Homo sapiens: one gene and its partner. The gene in region 1 interacts genetically with each later gene. Each region holds a gene or a part of one and is shown in the gene's direction. Other genes may lie near its edges. The genes, in order: CKAP5 and CDK1.

What was found.
Region 2: changes in CKAP5 (region 1) and CDK1 together harm fitness less than expected from each alone (positive genetic interaction), as found in Homo sapiens cells (one large-scale study listed by BioGRID).

The regions. Positions count from the first base shown.
Region 1 is NC_000011.10:46,794,009-46,798,040, reverse strand, and holds part of CKAP5 (cytoskeleton-associated protein 5), read left to right. Parts: intron 1-71; coding exon 72-236; intron 237-1,100; coding exon 1,101-1,229; intron 1,230-2,264; coding exon 2,265-2,447; intron 2,448-4,032. UniProt on the Homo sapiens protein: Binds to the plus end of microtubules and regulates microtubule dynamics and microtubule organization. Acts as a processive microtubule polymerase. Promotes cytoplasmic microtubule nucleation and elongation. Plays a major role in organizing spindle poles.
Region 2 is NC_000010.11:60,784,978-60,788,477, forward strand, and holds part of CDK1 (cyclin-dependent kinase 1), read left to right. Parts: intron 1-686; coding exon 687-810; coding exon of another isoform or gene 811-822; exon of another isoform or gene 823-2,092; intron 2,093-3,082; coding exon 3,083-3,253; intron 3,254-3,500. UniProt on the Homo sapiens protein: Plays a key role in the control of the eukaryotic cell cycle by modulating the centrosome cycle as well as mitotic onset; promotes G2-M transition via association with multiple interphase cyclins.

The DNA.
Region 1 (4,032 bases):
TTTGTAAATATAATATTTTGATTGTTCTTTACAATTGAAAAAAGCTCATTAACCACATTTTCTTTCTAAAGACCACACTACAGAACATCAGTGAGGATGTTTTAGCAGTAATGGATAATAAAAATCCAACCATCAAGCAGCAGACATCTCTTTTTATTGCAAGAAGTTTCCGCCACTGCACTGCTTCTACCCTGCCAAAGAGCTTGCTAAAGCCCTTTTGTGCTGCACTACTTAAGGTACAGACTCTCTTTGAAGTTGGGGGAATATTTTATACCTAGGCAAGATTCTTTTCCTGCAAATTATGTACAGTGACTACTTGACTTTCAGACTATAGAGGTTATGATCTTTTGAGGAGCAGAGCCTTTGCAGCTTGGAAACTGAATCCAAATTCTCCTGTGTTCCTCTTCTTGAAAGAAAGCACAAGTTAGTGTTATGATTCCATTAACTGTTAAACATGTTGTTTCTTACTTGTCCCATATACTGGTGTTCAGCTGAATCTGGCCAAGCATAGGCATCAAATGTGGAGTATTTGAAGATCATTTGGGAGTGAGTTATTTTAGATAGAGGGTAAGAGGAAAAGGAAATACTTATTTGCTAAATGGATTACCAAGGGTTTCCTTAACCCGAAAAATTTTTGTTTTTTTTTTTTTGTTGTTGTTGTTTTTGTTTTGTTTGAGATGGAGTTTAGCTCTGTTGCCCAGGCTGGAGTGCAGTGACACAATCTTGGCTCACTGCAGCCTCTGCCTCCTAGGCTCAAGCAATTCTCCTGCCTCAGCCTCCTGAGTAGCTGGGATTATAGGCATGTGCCACCACGCCCGGCTAGTTTTTGTATTTTAGTAGAGATGGGGTTTCACCATGTTTGCCAGACTGGTCTCGAACTTGGCCTCCCAAAGTGCTGGGATTACAGGCATGAACCACTGTGCCTGGCCCAAAAAGAATTTTTGAAAGAGTAACTGTCAATTGGCACAAGGAAAGCTATACTTAGTTCCAGTAAATTGTAAAAAGCAAATTCTTTATCTAGCAACCATCAGTCTGAATTAAAATGAGTAATGCCTAAAATACCTTGCATTAATATCATTTTGCTTACTTCTGGACTATAGCACATCAATGATTCTGCTCCTGAAGTCAGAGATGCCGCATTTGAAGCATTGGGTACTGCTTTGAAGGTGGTTGGCGAGAAAGCAGTAAACCCATTCCTAGCTGATGTGGACAAACTCAAGCTTGATAAGGTAGGTTAGTAATGGATTGGACTGAAATTGGACAACATTCCTGTCTCTTTGCATCATGGCTTTGTCTCTTGACAGTTATAGAGTACTGGTAGTTTTGATGAGGAGTTCTTGATTTTTTTTAAATTGCCATTTATAGTAGGAAAGAAATGCATAATTGAAACAAGTTTTGGAGGATGCTCTCTGGTACTTTTTGTCTTCAATTTTGTCTGTTGTTTTATTAAGAAAAAAATGCTGATATCACCTCAGGAAATTTATTTCATCCTCCACTGATAGTTCAGACCGAGTTTGAAAACTTAGCTTTTGAGAATTTAAGTTTCATTCCAGGCTATGATGGTGATAATTGTAGAAATAGCTTTCAAATTATAACCGAAAAAAAGCTGAGTGACCAATCTGTAGAGAAGGTGAAAACAGTTCTGTGAGATAAATTTATTTCTAAGGTCCAGAAAATTACCTTCTTATATGTGAATGTCTTCCATAAACAATGTGGTCATTTTAAGTTTATTACAATTCTAATTTGTAAAGAAATAAAATGTAAGATTAATATCTTACGTATGTCTATCTACTGCCAAAAAAGTGTAGATAATTTATCTTTTTTGTTGAAAGGGAAATTTTTTCTCTGAAAATTTTTTTTTTTTTTTTTTTTTTTTGGCAATGAATCTCACTCTGTCACCCAGGCTGGAGTGCAGTGGCACAATCTCAGCTTACTGCAACCTCTGCCTTCTGAGTTCAAATGATTTTCGTGCCTCAGCCTCCCAAGTAGCTGGGATTACAGGCGCCTGCCACCACGCCCGGCTAAACTTTTTTATTTTTAGTAGAGATGGGGTTTCACCATGTTGGCCAGGCTGGTCTCAAACCTCTGACCTCAAGTGATCCACCCATCTCGGCCTTCCAAAGTGCTAGGATTATAGGTGTGAGCCACCTTGCCTGGCCATTTCTCTGAATTCTTATGTGTAGTTGTGGTTTAGAAATGTAATAACGTAGTGGTTGTGTTTCAAAGTTGGGCTTAATGATGTTCATCTCACTTTCATTCTCCAGATCAAAGAATGTTCAGAAAAGGTAGAACTGATACATGGTAAGAAAGCTGGACTAGCTGCTGATAAGAAGGAATTCAAACCTCTGCCTGGAAGGACTGCTGCTTCAGGGGCTGCAGGAGATAAGGACACAAAGGACATTTCTGCACCCAAACCAGGACCTCTAAAAAAGGCACCTGCTGCTAAGGTTAATAGATTATTTAAAAATAGAAGTTAGTAAGGAAGGGTCTGAGTCTCAGGTTCGTGGTTGTTCCTCTAAAATTATTTTGTTTGAGAAATGAATTCATTGGCCACATTAAAAATACAGCAGAAAATCTGTTAATGAAGATAGGATATTCCAGCAATAAATTCAGCTGTTTGGAGCTTTAATAGAGATAAAAATGGTGATGAAGGCACAGAAGTGTGTTTTGTCAATTTAACATAAAATTTACTATCTTAACTTTTTTTTTTTTTGAGATGGAGTCTCGCTCTGTTGCCCAGGCTGGAGTGCAGTGATGCAATCTTGGCTCACTGCAACCTCCGCCTCCCAGGTTCAAGTGATCCTCCTGCCTTAGCCCCCCAGTAGCTGGAATTACAGGCACGTGCCACCATGCCAGGCTAATTTTTGTATTTTTAGTAGAGATGGGAATTTGCCATGTTGGCCAGGTTGGTCTTGAACTCCTGACCTCAGGTGATCCACCCGCCTTGACCTCCCAAAGTGCTGAGATTACAGGCGTGAGCCACCGTGCCTGGTCTGTCTTAACTTTTTAATGTGCAGTTCATTAATATTAAGTATGTTTATAATGTTGTGCAGCATCACCACAATCCATTGCCGTAATGCTTTTCATGTTTTAACACTGAAACTCTATGAATCAATTAACTATCCTCCCATTCTCAGCTTCTTCCAGCCCCTTCTTTCTGTTTCTATGAATTTGACTACTTTGTTTTTATTTTCTATATTTTTTAGAGACAAGGTCTTGCTCTGTTGTCCAAGCTGGAGGGCAGTGGTGCGATTATAGCTCACTGCAACCTGGAACTCCCAGGCTCAAGTGATCCTCCTCACTCAGCCTCCCAAGTAGCTAGGATGACAGGGACTTGCCACCATACCCAGCTTATTTTTAAAAATTTTTTATAGAGGGCCTCGCTGTGTTGCCCAAGCTAGTCTTGAACTCCTGGCCTCAAGTGATCCTCCTGCCTTGGCCTCCCAAAGTGCTGAGGTTACAGGCATGAGCCACCAAGCCTGGCCTTGAGCATCTTTTCATGTGCAGGTGGCAATCTGTAGTTGTATAGTTCTTCTTGGAAAAAAATATCTACTCAAGTTCTTTGCCCATTTTTGAATTGGGTTGTTTTGAGGCAAGGTCTCACTCTGTTCCCCAGGCTGGAGTGCAATGGCACAATCACAGCATACCTCCCAGGCTCAAGCAATCCTCCCACCTCAGCCTTTTGAGTAGCTGGGACCAGAAGCACGTGCCACCACACACAGCTGATTTTTTATTTTTTAATATTTTTGTAGAGACGGGTTTCACTGTGTTGCCCAGGCAGGTCTCAAACTCCTAGGCTCAATGAATCCTCCTGCCTCCGCCTCCCAAATTCCTGGGATCACAAACCTGAGCCACTGCCCCCAGGCTTATGATGCTTTTGCCCTCTATTTTGTTCTAAAGATTTTATAGTTTTAGGTCTTACATTTATGTCTTTATTTTGACTTTATTTTTATATACGGTGTCCAACTTCATTCTTTTTGCATGTGGATATTCAGTTTTCCCAGCACCATTTGTTGAATAGACTGTCCTTTC
Region 2 (3,500 bases), on another chromosome or scaffold:
GAACCCTATTTTTGGTAGTTGAGAATGCCGCACATATGTAAAAGAGAACAGGCTGTTAAAGCAGGAACAGAGTTGGAGGAGCTGGGTGATGTAGATTAATATTTGGGCCTAGAATAGCAAGGTAAATTGGCCATGGGAGTAAAGCCGTTTTCATAGAGCTTTGTCAACTCTCTCCTACTTGGGGAGCTCTAGTTCCTGAAGACCCTTTAGTTAGAGTCTTAAGAAAAGTAGCTAGGTCAAATGAAAAAGATTTTTTTTCCTTAAAGTATTTGCATTGGGTGTTTTTGGAGACCTGTCTTCCTAACAGTCCAAGTTAAAATCTAATTGTACTTGGCTGGGGCTAGAGATTGGAAGTAGCTTTTAAGGTCAGATACCACTTTAAAATTTATTTGTATAATTCACTTCAGTGAAAAAATAAGCTCTCAGCAATTAGTAGCCAACCTAGATATGTTCTTTTGAATACAGGCTCCTTATAAATAAGCACCTCCTGTACAAGGCTTAATTTTAAATAGTTGCCCTGAGATTCCTTTCTTAAATTTGAGTTTTGAGTCTCTTCCATTAGGGAAGCTACTACGTCTTCCCCAGTTTTTATTATAGCAACTGAAATTATGGAAGGAGTTTTATTTTGTGAAACAGAGGTCAAAAATGTTTGCTGGATTCTTCTCTCATATATTTTTTTTCCCCAGTCTTCAGGATGTGCTTATGCAGGATTCCAGGTTATATCTCATCTTTGAGTTTCTTTCCATGGATCTGAAGAAATACTTGGATTCTATCCCTCCTGGTCAGTACATGGATTCTTCACTTGTTAAGGTAAAAGCTTAACTAATTTTATTAATATTTATGCACTGTGGATATAAAGGGACTATATATAGAAGTCCCTGCATTTTGTGGGAATATGCTTGGAAAAAGTGTTAGAATAAGAAAAAGTATTTCATTTTTCTCCCTCATGGTTAGTTTATACAGGTTAGAGATACCCATGTTATTACCAGATAGTGTTTCTAGTAAGTAAAAATTAGTGCCTGAGATAACATAGAACTGGTAGGTATTGTTGGAAGCTAGGGTAGTCTGGTCTTTCTTTGGCTGTCAGATACATGTAAAACAAAGTAATGAAAGCCTAGGGCAGAGTGGTGGTTGTAGGTGTTTTATTCCAGTTTTGAACATGTTTTGGTCAATTTATTGTAGACATTTATTATATTTCAGGTAAATTATAAAATTGTATAGTTTTAAGTACTGAAGTATATAAAAGTGTCTTATTCTTGCACCAGTTCTACCAAACCACTCTGCAGAGGTAGCGCTGTTAGTTTTATTTGTAATCTTACACTTGTATGTATGTTCACTTTGTATGTATATAAAGATTTTTTTTTTTACACAAGGTGGACTTATTTGCATATGTATATATACATATTTTCCCTTTTTTGTGTAAAACATTATCAAGACGTAGATCTACCTATGTCTATTTACATTTTTGATATAATTAAACCACTTCCATATTGATGAACATTTAAATTATTTTCCAACTTGGTTATTGTTGCTCTTATTAACAGTACTGCACTGAATGTCCTTATAGATATTTATCTTCGTATGCAACTTTATAGGATAAATTTTTAGAATGGGAATGATGGATTGAAGATGTTTATTTACATTTTGATAGATATTGCCGGTTGCCCCCTAAAAAACTTGTAGCAATTTACTCTTAAATACTCATGGTGTGTAATACTTATTGTTTTAGTACATCATTGCCAAAACTTGGTTTTATCAATCTGTTAACTATGTGAAAAAGGCATATTAAGATTGTTTTAATTTTATATTTCATGACAATTTAACACTTCATATTTAGCTATTATAAACCGCCTATATTTTCGTTAGGATACGTTCTTTAACAATCTTGCATGACTTTTGGACTTTCTGCTTTTATGTCTTGCTTAAGTCTTCCTCACTCAAAGATCGAATGTATTAGAATAATACATGTCAGTATTTTTCTGGTAGTTTTAGTAAGTCCTGTCTTCCACACATACTTTTTTTGTCTTAAATTCTGTATTAAGATTTATTTTGACTTAAAAACTGGGATACAGATTCTGCTTTATCTTTTTCCAAATGGCTAGCCAGTTGTTCTAACTGGTTTTATGTACAGGCAACAATGGTTTTACTTACAATTTTTCAGTTTTACAATGAAGCAGAAATGATGCACATTCACTAGAAACCATACTTCATTTACCCATACAACCATTCTGTTTTTTCACTTTCAGTACAGTATTCAATAAATAATGAGGTATTCAACACTTCCAACTATATGCTAATGTAAGTGTTTTGAGCACAATTAAGGTGGGCTACGCTTAGCTACGTTTGGTAGGTTAGGTGTGTTCAATGCATTTCGACAAGGTATTTTCAGCTTAGAATGAGTTTAACCAGATGGATCATCCGTTTTGTTTTGTTTTTTGAACACCACTTGTCCCTCTAAGATGGAGCATCTGTATTACTTTCCAATTTCAAACTGTAAGTCATTTTTCTGTGTACTTTGTTTTTGTAATATCCATGCTACTTCAGATGTCAATGACATTGTCTTTGGCAACAAATGTCTTGTAAAGCACTTTTCTCTGAACTAAGCAGCATTTTATGATAATTTTATCCATTGAAATATATAATCATAATATCTTTGCCATCACTTTTAGAATCTAATTTTTTCAAGAAGGAAATGAATATGTAAAAATGAAAGATAGAAAAGGCCAACTGTATTGAAGATACAAAATAGAGTTGGTAGCGGTATATAGAAGAAAAATCAAGAGGCTTCTGTGTAGAAAACCAATTTGTAATTTAAGGATCGGGGACCAAAAATGTTTAAAGACTAAATGTGTTCACATTACTATAGATATGTCTATAAGGTGAAGATTCTTTTCTTAGGTATACAAATGTGATGTTGTATATAAATGGGCTTCCCACCCACAAATGCTTATTAGCCTAAAATGGCCTGAAAGCTCTAGTAATTAAATTATTTCTCTGCGTCCTAATTTTTTGTCTTTGAAACAGATTATTTAGAAAATCATGTACTTCGCTTAAGTTTCTAACTTTTACTTGCTTTTTCCAGAGTTATTTATACCAAATCCTACAGGGGATTGTGTTTTGTCACTCTAGAAGAGTTCTTCACAGAGACTTAAAACCTCAAAATCTCTTGATTGATGACAAAGGAACAATTAAACTGGCTGATTTTGGCCTTGCCAGAGCTTTTGGAATACCTATCAGAGTATATACACATGAGGCAAGTGGAATAGTGGTTTTTGATGGCTTTTGAATGTGTGTGATTGCTAGATTATTTTCTGTATTTGTGAAAGTCAAGAAATAACTCAATAAAAGATATCTACTCTGTGGCAGTATCAATTTATTGCCTCTCAGCTCCAAATTCATTGCATGCTATGTGAAAATGGAACTGAAGCCTTTAAGTATTTTTTCTTTACCAGCTGCTATGTTGTTAAGGTAGAGGGTACTAGAGGGACATGGCAGGAGGA